2 separate regions of the Homo sapiens genome follow, and region 2 is linked to region 1. The links come from fine-mapping of genetic effects on gene expression. Tissue or cell type: aorta. Region 1 holds a variant in brackets; the other region holds the start of a gene. All regions are shown on one strand. Distances are between the middles of the regions.

What was found. PIP is the estimated chance that this variant, and not a neighbour inherited with it, causes the effect.
Region 2: ADAM12 starts here. The variant in region 1 is fine-mapped to the expression of ADAM12 in aorta (GTEx, PIP above 0.99).

The regions. Positions count from the first base shown.
Region 1 is chr10:126,046,514-126,054,616 of GRCh38, forward strand. It overlaps ADAM12 (ADAM metallopeptidase domain 12), which reads right to left. Exons shown (of 23, transcript NM_001288973.2): 15 at 3,048-3,156; 16 at 2,740-2,938. Among named protein-coding and RNA genes, the nearest start is that of FANK1-AS1, 77 kb to the left of the region's middle. RefSeq lists an enhancer at 2,785-3,285. The variant G/A (reference allele first, on the strand shown) is at 3,836.
Region 2 is chr10:126,384,691-126,392,793 of GRCh38, forward strand. It overlaps ADAM12 (ADAM metallopeptidase domain 12), which reads right to left and starts at 3,787. Exons shown (of 23, transcript NM_001288973.2): 1 at 3,368-3,787. The coding sequence starts at 3,455.

The DNA.
Region 1 (8,103 bases):
AGAGGGCGAGGTTGGGCACGGTTGCTCACTCCTGTAATACCAGCACTTTGGGAGGCCGAGGCAGGCAGAACACGAGGTCAGGAGATCGAGACTCTCCTGGAAAACATGGTGAAACCCTGTCTCTACTGAAAATACAAAAATTAGCTGGGTGTGGTGGCACGTGCCTGTAATTCCAGCTTCTTGGGAGGCCGAGGCAGGAGAATCGCTTGAACCAGGGAGTTGGAGGTTGCAGTGAGCCGAGATCATGCTACTGCACTCCAGTCTGGCGACAGAGAGAGATTCCGTCTCAAAAAAAAAAAAAAAAAAAAAAAAAAGATATAGGGGAGGGCGAGACAGATTACTCCTTATCCCAGGGCCTGGATAGACATAGATGGAGACTCCAAGAATCCAGGGTTGAAGAGTCTTTTAAGGGAGAGGTTGAAATATGGGAACTTTTTCCAGATACTGACTGACAAGTAGTATCATCAATGACATAAACCATCAGCAACGAGGCTCAGCAGAGGAAAACAGACGGCTCCTTGAATTTATCAAGCTGTTGTAGTGGTAGGCATTTCCTAAGTGATACTGGGCTGGCTGAAAGAACTCAGCCTCATTTCAAATGTGCATAATATACTCCAGACTCAAGGGATGCAGCCCTTTATCTCCTATAAGATTTTACAAATCCGTGGAGTCAAAGGAAAAAGAGTCTAACGTTCAAATGGCAGAAGAATTTTTAATCAAGTAGAACCTTCCTATTGAGGAGGTCACCATCCGACCCCAACAGCTCATATAAGGGCAAGAGGCATAGCCTTTGGGAGAAGCGCTGGCCCAAGCAGCACTGAGGGATTCCCACTCGGTGGGTGCGAATCCTGGCCAAGGGGATGGTCACATTCCAGCTGATAAAAGAACCTGTCCTGGATTACAGTGAACACAGCAGGACCCTCATGGGAATCACTGCGGATCCCTGAGCCCTCAGAGAACCAAGGTTCTGAGATCAAAGCACATTTCATCTTGAACGTGGAAAACAAATTTGATGATAAATTGAGCCCTTGGAATTGGAATGTCCAGATGCACCTGGCCCTGGCTGTTCAGGCTACAGTTTAAAAAAAAGGTGTCAGTCAGAATGGCTGTTATTAAAAAGTCAAAAAACAACAGATGCTGGCAAGGTTGTGGAGAAAAAGGAACACTTATATACTGCTGGTGGAGTGTAAATTAGTTCAACCATTGTGGAAAACAGTGCAGTCGTTCCTCAAAGGCCTAAAACAGAAATTACCATTTGACCCAGCCAACCCACTACTGGGTAATACCCAAAGAAATATAAATCATTCTATCATAAAGACACATGCACTCATATGTTCATTGCAGCACTACTCACAATAGCAAAGACATGGACTCAAACTAAACGTCCATCAATGATAGACTGGATAAAGAAAATGTGGTACATATACACCATGGAATACTATGCAGCCATAAAAAAGAATGAGATCATGTCCTTTGCAGGAACATGGATGGAACTGGAGGCTGTTTTCATAAGCAAATTAATTCAGGAACAGAAAACCAACTACCACATGTTCTCACTTATAAGTAGGAGCTAAATGATGAGAACACATAGGCACATACAGGGGAACAAAACACACTGGGCCTATCAGAGAGTAGAGGGTGAATGAGGGAGAGGATCAGGAAGAATAACTAATGGGTACTAGGCTTAGTATCTGAGTGACAAAATAATCTGTACCACAAGCCCCCATGACACAAGTTTACCTGTATAACAAACCTGCACATGTACCCCTGAACCTAAAAGTTAAAAGACAAAATATGATTTGAGCCTAAAAATATCAGATGTCATTTTAATGTCAAGGCCTGAATATGAGCAAATGTGGGTAAGGAGACATTCAGAATGTATAAGAAGATTCATGTACGATCCTATTTCTCAAGGAAAAAGGATTTGTGGCTCAGGGTGTGTGGGGCCAAAGACAGGAGAGTGGAGGCAACACCTGTCCTCAGGATTCTGTCTCTGCCTCTGTCTTTTCTTGCCTGTGTGACCTCATGTTAGTGAGTGATTTCAAGACCATGTTGAAAATGGAGTCCTAAGAAGCATTTGGGGGTTGTTTCATCCTTTTCTTAAAACATTGTATTCGCTTGCTGTCATTTAGTCTGATGAGAAAGTTTGGTGAAAAAAAAAAAATCAGTATGGCAGAGCATGAAAATCTCAAATTCTTTTTTTCTTCCAAAAAAAAAAAAAGTTTGACTTTATTTCTAAACCTCAAAATATCTCCATGTATCTTTCTCCCTGTTCTCTGAAAGGACTCCCCTCTGGTTTTGAGTTTCTTCCACTCCTTTCCCTCTCCTATTCTTCTCTCTACAGGGTTCTAAAAATACATCTGATTTCCCATTCTGTTCAGGTGAGGACAAGCCCCCAAGAACTCTGTGCTAAAAACCAAGCCACATATCCAAAACCAATAGAATATGCGATTGTATTTCTTTCCAAAGTAATTTCCTGGCTAGAAGTCCTCATGCCACCTGGAGTGTAGAAATGACTTATTAACACTCAAGGCCTAAGAAGACAGGCTTGATTTTTCCCCAATCTGCATTTTAATAGTCAGACCAGGATCTAGGATTTATTGACTTTTTCTTCTAGGTGCATCTGAGAAGAAGTAGATTTAGGAAAACCAACAAACCTTGTAACCCAGTTCTTGCTGTTTTTCAATGGGCCCTGTTCCAGACTTACATTTATGATCCAAGCAAACATTTGGGTCTTACTTTTCCATCTGCACACTTTGTGCCTGCAAGCACAAGCCCTGGGTCCGGCATGTCATCGCCCAAGTACACGTGGGTCCCCCGGCACAGAATCCGGCCTCCTTGCTGCAGGGGGATGTTTGTTTCTATGGAAACGGCATTGGTACCAATGACTGGCCGGCTGGCACCTCCTTGACACTGGATTTTTCCACATTTAGCATCTCTGGAAGGGTAAGAACAAACAATTCCCAAGGAGAAACCATTTGGAACCAACCCTATGCAATGTGGGAAGGTCAGAGCAAAGACTTTGCCAGGATGTCTGGATTCCATACCTCATCTCGCATTTGGCAAAGGAACTCTTCGAGACTTTGCCACAGTTGCCATAAGGATCACCTGCAGAATTGACTCTCTCAAAGCAGATCCCAGGGGCAGGTTTAGCACCTGAAACAGAAGCAGAACTGCATTTTCATCTCCTGCAGGTGATTTTTTTTTTTTCATGGCTGTAGGCCTCTCAAATGGTTACGGGGAGACGTGCTCAAAGCAATCACACCCAGTGTCTGTCCCGACTCATGGTGGGAGCTGGCCAGGGGAAGCCTAGGGTGTCAGCAGCTCGCATCCTCTCTTGACTCGGCCTCTGGCAGAGCACATGTTCCAATGCTTACTCTTCCTTAGGTCTGCTCTCTGGGCTTGTGGCATGTGTGGCCTCTCAGGAAATGAGGCCTGGCTGTGGAATGAGATCTGATCCAGGGCAGAAAGGAGGTGGCTGGCTGGCTGGCTGGCTGGCTGGCTGGCTGGCTGGCTGGCTGCAGAGAAGGGGAAGTTTGCTCTCTTTAACAACATCCCACACAATTCCGGTGAGGAAATGCAAGCCAGGGCAGGCTCCAAAGGAGCAATGAAGATATCTTCTATGATATTTTTAGTCCCATAAAGCTCCCTATAAGAGAAAGTACTACCTTCTTTTAATACCTTCTATTTTATTTGCAAGGCAGAGATTTCTCTCAGAGGCCATGGAGTCATAAACCCTGGTAATCCCTATGTACAACATGACGGTTCCCAGCAAAGAGGGTCATGGCAGCCAGAGAGCTCAGAAATGGCCATTTTTAGCACATCTTCCAGCCAC[G/A]GAGAGAGCACATATAATCAGCATTTGCAGCCAAAGTTCTGGAGGACTCCTGAATCCTGGACATAGTGATGTCTGTTGAAGACTATTGAGCAAGTCAAGAAAACATGCCACATTCTTTAGAACAAACCATGCCCTGCGGCGTGGTCCCTTTTCTCTCCCTGATTGGTGTCCTGTTTGGCACTTTATCTCACATCGCTTCTGATGGCCAGGATGCCGACACTCCAGAGCCTCACTCTGACTCCTGCCCTTCTCTGCTCTCCACCCTGGGGAGGCTTTGCTTTCCAAGGTGACAACGGATTTATTTAAGATACCTCGTCCCAGGGAACAGAAGATGTTCTTCTTACTAAAAACATCCCCCTTCGTTAGCCTGCACCTGATCCCTTCTCATCAGCTACTAGCAGACATGATCATCTCATTCAACACACACGTGCCACACCACCTTGCCATCATTTGATGTGAACAGTGTGCTCAGCGCTCCAATCTCTGCAATGAGCCAGCCTTGCACCTCTCCTTTTCTCATTTCTTTTATAAGCCATGTTAGAGAAGCCTCTGCAATCTCTTTTTTCAGGGGCATTAGCCCAGACTGGACACAATTCTCTGTCATGGAGAAAGATGAGGTCCCTAGCTCCTCACATCACATGCCCTTTCCTTCCATCTGTTCCACATCTGCCTTGCTCACAGTAGGATGACACCACCGACACACTCAGCTCCTATTAGGGACCTGATTTGTCCGCATTCTGCCTTCTTTTTCTCTTTCGTCTATCTGTCAGAGCAGGGAAGGATGGGGAGGGAGAGCCTCAGTGTGGAACCTGCACTTTGTGCTTAATTTAATCCTGTTTGGCAGCACTTTTGATCAAAGTACTGGGATCTGATTGATCAAAGCAGTTTGGAAAAACTGGCATCTAGAATAGTAACAATTCAACAATTGTTTGTGTTTTTGCACACACCCTATGTATTTGTTGCTTGCCTAACTCTATCTCCCTCCCAACCATCCTTCTTTCCCTCTTTTTCCTCCCTCCTTCCCTTCCTACTTCCTTCCATCATCCATTTATATACCCATCTATCCATTCATCCATCCATCCACTCGTCCATCCAGCCAGCCACCCAGCCACCCGTCCATCCATCCGTCCAGCCAGCCACCCGTCCATCCACCCGTCCATCCATCCATCCATCCAGCCAGCCAGCCACCCATCCATCCATCCATCCATCCATCCATCCATCCATCCATCCATCCATCCATCCAGCCAGCCAGCCACCTGTCCATCCATCCAGCCAGCCACCCGTCCATCCATCCAGCCAGCCAGCCGGCCACCCATCCATCCAGCCAGCCAGCCAGCCAGCCATCATGTTGCAGGCTTCAATCAGACACATGTATTTATTCAGCACCTACTATCTTCCAGACATTGGGAGTATAAGAGGGACCAAACTGGACAAACCTCCTGCTTGCTTGAAAATTGCAAGGAGACACAGAAAAAAGACCCAAATGATTATGTTCCTCTAAAGCCCAGTGTTAGGGAATGCTATGAAGGTAGAAACAGAGTAGGAGGGTTCAGGGGACTGTTGCTTTTAAAGGCAGGCTGGTCAAGGAAGACCTCTTAGAGAAGACATCATGAGCTGAATCCTACCATTTAATCCTACAAGGTAGGTCTCATTATTCCATTTTATGGACAAGAAAATTAGCACATCAGAGGTTAAATATATTTCTCAGATTCACATAGGTAACGAAGGCAGGATCATCTAAGGGTGAAGCCAGGCTTCTGGGCTGTTCCCTCCTGTGCTCCATCCTCACAGGTGCTGGACCCTGCACTGGGTCTCAGGTGTAGAGAGCAGATTAAGACCTGGCCCTGCAGCCCAAGCAACAACAGGTTCAGTGGATGTGGGGTGTGCTGCTGCAGCTGCCTGTGGAAGGGCTAAGAAAATGGGGCAGGAAATGGCTTTGTTGCTTCTTTCCCTACTTCATAAGGCTAGGACTCGGAAATACAAGCAGCTCCTAGTGACTGCTTAGCTCCTAGGAAATGGGTGGGTGGAGTTGACATCACTGTGCCATTGCACGCAATGCTATTCTGATGTCCTAGATTCTGCTACCTTTATTATAAAGTAATTTCTTTCTTGGGAATTGTGACCACTTAAAAAATACATATACCATGACACAATTCAAGTATGTCAGTTGATACATTTGTTTTCCTTATAGGGAGCTCTAAAGAGACTTTGGGCAGTTTCAGACACGTGAGCTTACAAACAGCTCAACAGCAGCCTGGGAGGAGAGTTGGACAAGGTTGGACTGGGGAGTACAGAAGGATAAAAACAAAGAGAGGAAGGGGGAGAGAGAGAGGACGAGAAAGAGACCAACCTCAACAGGGATTGAAGACGCTGCAAATGTACTGGCAAAGCAAAGGGGAAGCTTGATACGTGAATACCAGATAAAGGGCTATCGTTATGATAGGAAGTCAAGCAAAGGCATGGAAACAGTGTGTAATCAAGTATAAAAGCATTCTGGAAGTGAAAACACTGGATCTCTACTTGGGAATCCAAAGCTGAAACACACTGAGCCTTCTGGGTCAGAGTGTGACGTGGTTTGGATCTGTGTCCCCACCAAGTCTCATGTAGAATTATAATTCCCAATGTTGGAGGTAGGACCTGGTAGGAGGCGATTGGATCATGGGGGCAGTTTCTCTTGAATGGTTTAGCACCATCACCTTGGTGCTATTCTTGGGATAGTGAGTTGAGATCTGGTCGTTTAAAAGTGTGTGGCACCTCCCTTTTCCTTCTCTCTCTTGCTCCTGCTCCGGCCGCGTGATGTGCCTGCTTCTCCTTCACCTTCTGCCATGATTGGAAGCTTTCTGAGGCCTCCCCAGAAGCAGAAGCTACTCTGCTTCCTGTAAAGCCTGCAGAACCAAGAACCAATTAAACCTTTTTTCTTTATAAATTACCCAGTCTCAGGTATTTATTTATTTATAGCAGTGTGAGAACAGACTAATACAGGGTGTGCTTATGATTGTAATGCCCCAAATGCTGGTGGAGCAGCACAGCTCAGAAAACCAGGTGTGTGTAAGATGCAATGCCTTGTTTACCAATAACGCAGAAGCATGGTACACGCCCCAGCAGAAGGCCACCTGGCATTTCAGGAGCACCGCCATTCTCCCAAAGACAAACCCTCAGAAAGGCTTGTGGCCAATTCGAATATGTGAATTTTTACCAACACAGATGACACAGTCAAGCATCATCTTATAATATGCTGTCAATTAACTTAATGAGAAACAGTTAAAAGAATCACATTTTAATTTAGATTGTCTTAAAAAAAAAACCTCTCCCACACCGTGGAACAATTTTACTGAGATGACGTTTCCTTTGGTCTCAGTCTTTTTATTTTTTTTGAGAGAGAGTTTCGCTCTTGTTGCCCAGGCTCGAGTGCAATGGTGTGATCTCGGCTCACTGCAACCTCTGCCTCCCGGGTTCAAGCTATTCTCCTGCCTCAGCCTCTCATTTAGCTGGAATTACAGGTGCCCACCACCACGACTGGCTAATATTTTGTATTTTTAGTAGAGATGGGGTTTCACCATGTTGGCCAGGGTGGTCTCGAACTCCTGACCTCAGGTGATTCACCCACCTCAGCCTCCCAAAATGCTGGGATTACAGGCGTGAGCCACCGTACCTGGCCTGGTCTCAGTCTTCTTGCTTTCCATGGCACATTCCCTGCACTTCCGGCTTTCTCAAGATGCTGACATTTTTTCTTCTGTTATGTTATCACTGGAAATCTTGTTTCTAGGTTCAAGTACCCACTCTTCCAACACTTTTTAATAGAGAAAGTGAGCACTTTCTCTATTAGCCCAGTGGGTGTATATTCATAACCTCCACAACTGAACCACCCACTCTATTGCTTATGAAAGTGAACCCTTAAAAGCTCTTTTACCAGAATAACCAAAATGGGATGAAGTCACAGCCGAAGAATAATATTTAAGCATGTGATAGATGCACCTGCCTTTTTTTAAACCTGATTTTGTCAGGCAGCCTTGATGAACCTGCGTGGATGCAGGATGATGAGCGCCAAAGCGCCTTCCCACCTGCTCTGCGACATCCAAAAGGTGTGGCTGAGAGAGTGACAGGTCAGTGGTTAGCGATTCTTTTTGCTGGCTACTTTCAGGGGGAAGCCTTGTTTTATAGCTGGGCATGTATGGGGTCTAAGAAAAATACCTAATGCCTATCAGTCTTCAGCCTTTTTAGATTGCCCCCTCCTGTCTGACTGATCTACTCAGTAACCATGCTTCAGA
Region 2 (8,103 bases), 340 kb after region 1:
TAAGGGATGGGAAAAACCAAAAACCAAGTATTCTCCCTACTCTCACTCTCAGTACCGAATGTTTCACCTCTGGTCACCCAAATGTGTGGGAGTTTCTCCCCACCAACCACCAGTTCTTCAGTAGAGATCAACTGGGAGTCCTACAATTTAACTCTATTCTGACTCTATCTACCTGGAGAAAGCATCAGATCACACAGGTTAAGGGCTCAGTCCCACAAGACTTCCCCCCAATGTCAGATGCCAATCACAAGTAGTAGGTTGTCACACCTATACTTCTGACCAACTAGCTATAAGTTGGGGGTCCACAACCCCCTTCTCAGGTTCAGTTAATTTGCTAGGTAAGCTCACAGAACCACAGAAAACACTTGCTTATATTTACCAGTTTATTATATTAATGAAGGATGTAATTAGGGACACAGATGAAAAACAGTTGGAAGAGATGCAAAGGGCAGAGAATGTGGAAAGGGATACAGAGCTTCTGTGTCCTCTCTAGATACGCCACCCTCCAGGAACTTTGATTTGCTCAGCAATCTGGAAATTCTACAAACCTTGTCCTTTGGGGGGTTTATGGAGGCCTAATTACACAGCCATGATTAATTACACCATTGGCGATCAAGTCAACCTTCAATCCGTCTCCCCTCCCTGGAGGTTGCAAGGGAGGTGGCACTAAAAGTCCCAACTCTAATCATGCCTTAACAAGCTCATTAGCATACAAAAGACACTCTTAATACCCCAGAGATTCCAAGGATTTTAGGAGTTCTGTGCCAGGAACCAGGGGCAGAGACATATTTCTTATTATATCACAATATCACAGCTTGGTGCACAGAAAATAAAGCAAACAAAAATCAAGACAAGGCAATCATTAACTCTAGGAAAAGCAAAAAGTTACAAGAGGGATGAAATGCCATAAAACACTGCACGGCAAAACAGTGAAAAGTATTTGCAAAGTCTTCTTAGTGCAAACATTGAATTTTTTTTTAATGATGGCACTACTATATTGGGTAGTTGAAAAGAAGAGAAGGCAGTGTGTCTGGAGTAGGGTGAGCAAAGGGAGAATGGTAAGAAAGGAGATCAGAAAGGAAAACAGGAATTAGGTCATGCTGAGGTTTGGATTTTCTTTCCTAAGGGTGCTAGAGAGCCACTGGGGAGTTTTAGACAGGAAACTTGAATGCTCTAACTCATGTTTGAAAATAATAACTTTGGCTCTATTGTGGAGGAAAATATACCATGCAGGGATAAGGTGAAAAGCCAGTAGGCCCGTTGGGTAAGAGGGATAAGAGGCTTCTGCAGAAGAGATTTTTCCTATAATGTGGCCTGGACTGGGAAAGGCACACTTCGGGATGTAAGGAAGTGGGTAGGTGGGAATATACTTAGGAGGTTGGTGGCTTACGGAGTAAAAAGAGGGACACAGGGATGACTTCCTGCATGTCAGCACAAGGCATGTGGAGAAGGCAGAGGAGGTTGTTACTGGGTTCAGGAAGGCTGGGGAGGGAATGATTTGCAACTAGAGAGTCTGGGATCTAGGGTTCTGTTTTGGACTTGTTAGGCCGAGTTGCCCCAGAAAGTACCAAGTAGGCAACTGTGCCAGGGCTCAGGGTACAGACAAGGCTAGGGAGAAACTCAGAATATGCTCAGACTCAACAGGTAGTAATTCCTCCTTTTCTCTTGCCAATGCAAAGAAATGTTTCATTATATGTTTGGCGTTTTATACGGCCTCAATGGTATGATTTGGGGCACTGATTGATTGAAGACTTGATACTGAGAATCTAAGGGTAAACAAGCAGTGAATCCTGGAATATATCACAATAGGTAACCCATTCAAAGTGCTTAGGCCTCCCTGGTTTTCTATTTTGGGTCATATCTGTCTTAAGGAAACACTCTCTCTACCAAAGCTGAACTCATAAAATAGTAAAAGTCCTCCCCCGCCCACACACACAAGAAATAATTTCCCATTATTAGCTGGATTTAATAAACATTTTCTTCCAAAAAAAAAATTTGTCCCTGCTCAGTAGACTTCTCTTTATGTGTACAAAGCACGTGCCAAGTTAAAGACCATGTCAGGCACACTTTGAGACACTTTCCGTTTTTTAAAAAGTTCTTTCTTAATAAACATTCAAAAGGACCAATTTGTTTAAAAGTCTTTCAAAGCACAATTCACTACAGGTCGTAGAGTTCTTTAAACCCTCAGCAGGATTCTTTCTTGACTTTCTCATTGCTTTGTGCAATCTTTGTATTTAATCATTTATCCCCGAATTGGTCTTCGCAGTGTGGCTTTTAACAAGAACTGGGTTTTAGCCACATTACAGTAGACGCGGTGGGGGCGGAGGGCAGCAGTGGCAATCGCAAAATAAAACGTATCATAAAGTGGTAACGGTTCGTGATTTAGGCCAGTTGTTGAAAAATAAATGCCTGTTATATAGAATCACAGAACTTGAGAGCTTGCGGCCAAGGGAAGTCGTTCATCGGTGGACCGACAGCGCCCCGGGCGGCAGAAAGAAGGCGGCGGCGGCGGAGACCCGGGGAAGTTGCCGGATTTTTAAAAAGGCACCTGCTGGGTGAGTCCTCACTGTGCAAACGGGAGCCACAGGTGCCCGATTTTAAGGGGCTACAACTCGGGAAAACCTAAGTCTGTAAAACTAAGTACGTTAAACTAAGTAAGTTCTCGCTGTGCACCAAGTTGATGGGGGCGATTATTTACGGCGGAGAAACTGAGTGGAGGAAGGAGGGAGAATTCCGCTAAAGTTTGCCTGCGACTGACAGCTAGGGAGTGACCTGGAAGCCAGGAAGAGGGGCAGAGAGGAAACTAAAGAAGTAGGTAAGAGAGTCAGTTTATGAAAATAGAGCCTGCTGTGGAGAGCAGCAGGCACACCTGCGGAGGAGGGGGCTGCCTCACCTGCGGGGCCGCTGCGCGCCCCCCTAAGTGTGTTAGCGGGGGAGGCGGGGCTGGAAAGGAAACCTGGTGAAGGGCTGGCCCGGAGCCTGGGGTGGGGATATTCACTGCGGGATAGGGCCAGCAAGAGGACCCGACACGCATCGTCCCGAGTGACACGTGTAAATGTCAAGATACAGAGACATCTGCAAATGTCACCCAAGAGGGTGAGGACGGGGGAGCGGTCCCGAGGCTGTGCCCTCCGGGGCAGGTACTGGCTCCTGTGGGGCTGCGGGCCAAGTGTCGCCCTTCCCCAAGGAATTGGCACCTGGGGGGGGGGGGTCGGTCTCGCCGCGCTGGAAGCGCAAGCCCCGGGGCTCCGGAGATGCGCCGGGGCGCGTCGCCCCTCGGGGCAGCCCTGGACCTCGGCGCGCCCAGGCGCAGCGTGCGGTGCCCTCGGCGGGGCGGGCAGCGAGCCGCCCTAGTTCGGCGACTTACCTCGGGCCTCGCAGGGCGCGAGCAGAGCACCGGCCAGGGCGAGCAGGAGGGCGCGGGCGGGGGACACGGGCAGCGGGCGCGCTGCCATCGTCGCCGGCCTTCAGTGCAGCAGCTCTCGGGCCCGGCGGCGAGCGCTGCACCATCCCACGCGGGCGCCGAGCCGGGGCCGGGCGTCGCGACCGGAGGGATTTCCTGCCTCGGCGAGTCAGCTCCGGAGCCCTCGCGCAGCGCCCGCGCCGCCGCTGAGCTCTTCTAGCCTTTCATTTTTAAAAAAGTTTCCCCCCGTGTGTGTGCGTGCGTGCGCGCGCGCGCGCCGTTCTGGCACAAGCCAGCCTTGACCGTTGCAATAAATGAGCAAACTGTCCGAGTTGGCCCGGGGACTAGGAAGAGCGTTAGTGAGAGAAGGCAGGCCTGTGAAATGGATCCACGGCCAGCAGTCACCGTTCTTATTACCGCGGAACAAATTATTGTCTCCCCCGCACCCCCGCCAGTTGGCGGCGTCCCGCGGGTCCTAGAGACCGCTCGGGTCCCCCCGCCAGGGTCCCGCCCCGAGCCGCGGCTCGCTCACCCCCGAGGGTGGGCGGCTCAGACGTGGCTCAGTGGCGTCCGGGCGCCCGGAGCGCACACGTCCCCGCCCCAGGATGATGTGGCCGCAGGGCCCGGGGCGCCCGGCTGCCAAGCGCACATGCGGCGGCACGGTCCAGCTTTTCAGGCTGAAGCTGGAAACGATGACTCTGCTACTCGCTCCCCGGCTCTCTGGGAACCCTCGGAGTGCGGGTCAGGTCTCCACCGCGGCCCACAGCCCGGCGCGCGACCCCGCCCGGCCCTAAGCGCCCAAAGGGGCATCTCTCGCCCGAGAAACAAGCTTGGACTCGCAGGCACAAGACACCTGGGCGTTACTTTTGATCAACAGTGTTAGGTTTTACGTTGATAGATTGGCTCACGTTTCCATTCCATGACCTGGACCCAGAAAAGGGTGTACAGTGACGTTCCCCAAACTTTCCTGATTGTAAGAAGCACCTGGGTTGGCTTGTTAAAAAGATTCCCGGGCGCCCTCCTACGCTTTCAGAATGAGACTCTCCAGGCTGTGAGGCCAGGGGAGCCCAGGGTGTTTGGAGAAACACCAATGAAAGAATGGTGCGCCTTGCCTTCTCATCCTTGTTCCGGGCTGACCCCACCTCTTCAGCCTCGCTCGGCCCTCAGGGAGACCATGAAAAGCAGCAGCGAGGGGGCCCGCACAGACAGAAATGGCTGGAGCTATGGAGGATGGCTGATGCCCACCCTGCGGGTTACCATGATTCCCAACCTTGGGGACTTATTAGAATAGTAAGAGTTAAAGACATTGCCAGCCCCAGACACCAGTTAACTCAGTTTCCCACAATGCGTGGAGCTCAATAGTTTTCAAAGCCTCAGGTGATTCTACTGTGCTGCTCAGACCTAGGACCACCTGCAGAAATTCCATCCTGGTCCTGCGACCTCGCACCGATTCCTGACGGAGCACCCACTCCTAGGAGGCGGTTATCCAGCATTTGAGGAAGCTGCCTTCCATACCATCTCTTCCCACTGCAGAGGAGTTTTCTCAGGAGTTCCCTCCCACGGCAGGTTTTGCAGTGTTCCCAAAACCCAGGTCGATCCTCCTAACAAGGTGCAGGACTTTCTTTTTAAAAAACCTTAGTGGGAAGCACAGGCTCTCCAGCCCCCTTCCCAATGCTGCCATATCTCAGTACCAGATCTGGAAACCAGGCCTGGTTCAAGCCCTGTGTCATATCTAACCGTACTACCAACCAGCGTTGCAGTGTACTTCTTTTGTTCATTCATTCAGTCAATCTACATGAGCAACCCTATGTTAGAACTTGGGAAACTAAACGAGAAAGCCTCTTGCCTTCAAAGACTTTTCTTTCTGATCAAACTGATAAATCATCATTATTGGACAGTGTGAGCTAGTTACTTAACCTAGTTAATAATGATTAGGCTTGTTTACTGATATGGTTTGGCTGTGTCCCCACCCAAATCTCATCTTGAATTCCCATGTGTTGTGGGAGGGACCTGGTGGGAGGTAATTGAATCATGGGGGCAGGTCTTTCCTGTGCTGTTCTCATGGTAGTGGATAAGTCTCAAAAGATCTGATGGTTTTAAAAAGAGGAGTTCCCCTCCACAAGCTCTCTCTCACTTTCTGCCTGCTACCATCCATGTAAGACATGACTTGCCCCTTCATGTCTTCTGCCCTAGCCATGTGGAAATGTAGGTCCATTAAACGTTTTTCCTGTATAATTTTACCCAGTCTTGTGTATGTCTTTATCAGCAGCACGAAAACAGACTATTTACTACTTCATAATTCATTACATACCTCGTATAATCGGAGTATTGTGCTAACGTCTTTCACCTGCATTATTTCATTTTTTAAGTCCTGAATATACAGATGAGGAAACTGCAGCATAGAGATGTAGCTTTCCCACCACCACACAGTGAAGTAGGTCAGAGCCCAACCTCAGATCTGTTAAAGATAAAGCCTGTTTCTTTAAGGCTGAGTTCCAACCTTCAGTTTTAGCAGCTGTTAAGTGAAGGTAAAATACAAACCTCCCAGGTGGTTGTGAGCACCAGGTGAAATAATGCAATGTCTCCCAACCCACCTGATCCCTGGGATGTCTGTTAAGAATTCAATTCCTCTGGCGTTTGCACTGGAGATTCTCATTAGAAAGGTCTGGGAAGGACAAGTTTTAGCAAGTACTTAGGTGATCCTGATACTTGTGGCCCATAGAACTTCAGACACATCGACGCAAGAGAATTAAAAATTGTTTTCTTCCAGCTCAAAGGGCCAGATTTGCTTGCAGATGAGCCCAGCCACTGGCCTCTCGGATCCTTCTGACTGGTTAAATGGTTTATTCACAATGGACCTAACATGTGCTGTGCACTGGGCTGGGGGCCTTGTATACATTTTCTCTTAATGATCAATTTATTTTCGCTCTTTCATATTCAATTGTTAATGTTGACTGTAAAAGTCCAATTTCTTTTAAACCTGGATGTTGCAAAGCTTCCTCCAAAGAACTAAATGTGCCCCAAGACTGTCCTTGATTTGTTTCTGACTGAACGAAAGAAAACAGCCATTGCAGAGGAAAAATGAAGAAAAATAAAATCCTGGCTGCAAGCTCTGGATTTCAACCCTGTAATTCACCATCTCTGTGAAGCAAGCGGCCTGGGCTGACACTGTCTCCACAAAGCCTTCATAGACATCAATAACAGCCAGCTAAGGCAAAGAGCAAATCCTGCGTCTGGCAGATGGTCTGTCTTTGGATGGAAATTCTGCCTCCTCATTCACAGGAAATGGAAGCCGACATCACATTCAATACTGGATTGTTAGGTAATGGTGTGGGGTCAGAGGCCAGGATCTACACACGAAAATTTCAGATAGATGGCTGGTTGTCCCTTCCTTTCTGGAAGAATTGACCTTTGCAATACTGTTTCCTGTGTGCTATTTTCGTTTAACAGCCTGGGCATTCACAACGAACAGGGCACTTATTTCTTACCCAAGCTCATGTAAGCTCAATCTGCTCTGAGTACAAGCAGATGAAAAACGGAGACAAACTTTCCTAAGCCAGGAATTTACAGGCAGCCACTGCTAATTTCTGCAGTAAGTGAAGAGCCGGCCTCCTTGCAGAGTGACCTATTGACAGAACTTCAGACACAGGCTTGCAGAACAGCTTTCCTCTCTCCAAGCACAGTTCCCAAGGCTTACTCCAAACGTAAACAAATGTGATCACCCCAAGATTAAGATTCTTGGAAATCATTTTTATTCTATCTCTTGGAGAGATGAAAACTCCTGCTCCTCTCGGCGTATTATAATAACATGTAGTCCATTTTTCTTTTCCTAGATCTCTCACTTCAAGAATCCATGCCTTCACCTCCTCAGAAACCTGCCCCCAGTGAACCTCTTCTGGGCAGATTAAACCCTCTTGTCTCTGATGCTTTCATTATTGCACAGAATTAGCACTTAAGTAGCACTAAACGCCAAAGAAAGAATGCTCCTGGGGCTGGGGACAAGGAACTCGGGGATGCGCTGTGTCACAAGAGACAGGAAAGGTCACCCCATCTATATTCATCTATGTCACCTACCCACTGACCAGTCAACTTCTCCAACCAAGTGACAGTCATACTTCACTTAACAAAGATACATTCTAAGAAATGCATCATTAGGCAGTTTTGTCGCTGTGTGAACATCACAGAGTGTACTCACACATCTAGGTGGTACCGCCTACTACACATCTAGGTTTTATGGTATAACCTGTTGCTCCTAGGCTACGAACCTGTATGGCACATGACTCCACTGAATACTGTAGGGAATGGTACAGCAAAAAGGCAGAAAGGTACAGTAAAAATACAGTGGAAAAGATTTTAAAAAATGGTACACCCGGATAGAGAAGCTCCATTATAATTTTATGGGAGCATCCTTACAAGTGCTCAAGTGCGTACCACGTGATTGACCAAAATGTCATTTGGTGACTCATGACTGTACTGTGATGGGAAACTTATTATGCCCCTCCCTACACACCCCCAGATTCCATTTTACGTACCCCAAGTGACTGACAGTACTAAGAGAAACAGACACCTCCTGGAGCAGCAGCAGCTGCTGAGACAGCCTCCTAGACCAGGTGCTTATCTCTCCCGCCATCAGCGGGGGCAGGCTGAGTGCAAAGCCAGCACACAGCGAAAGGAAAAGGGGAATCTCAAAAACAAACATG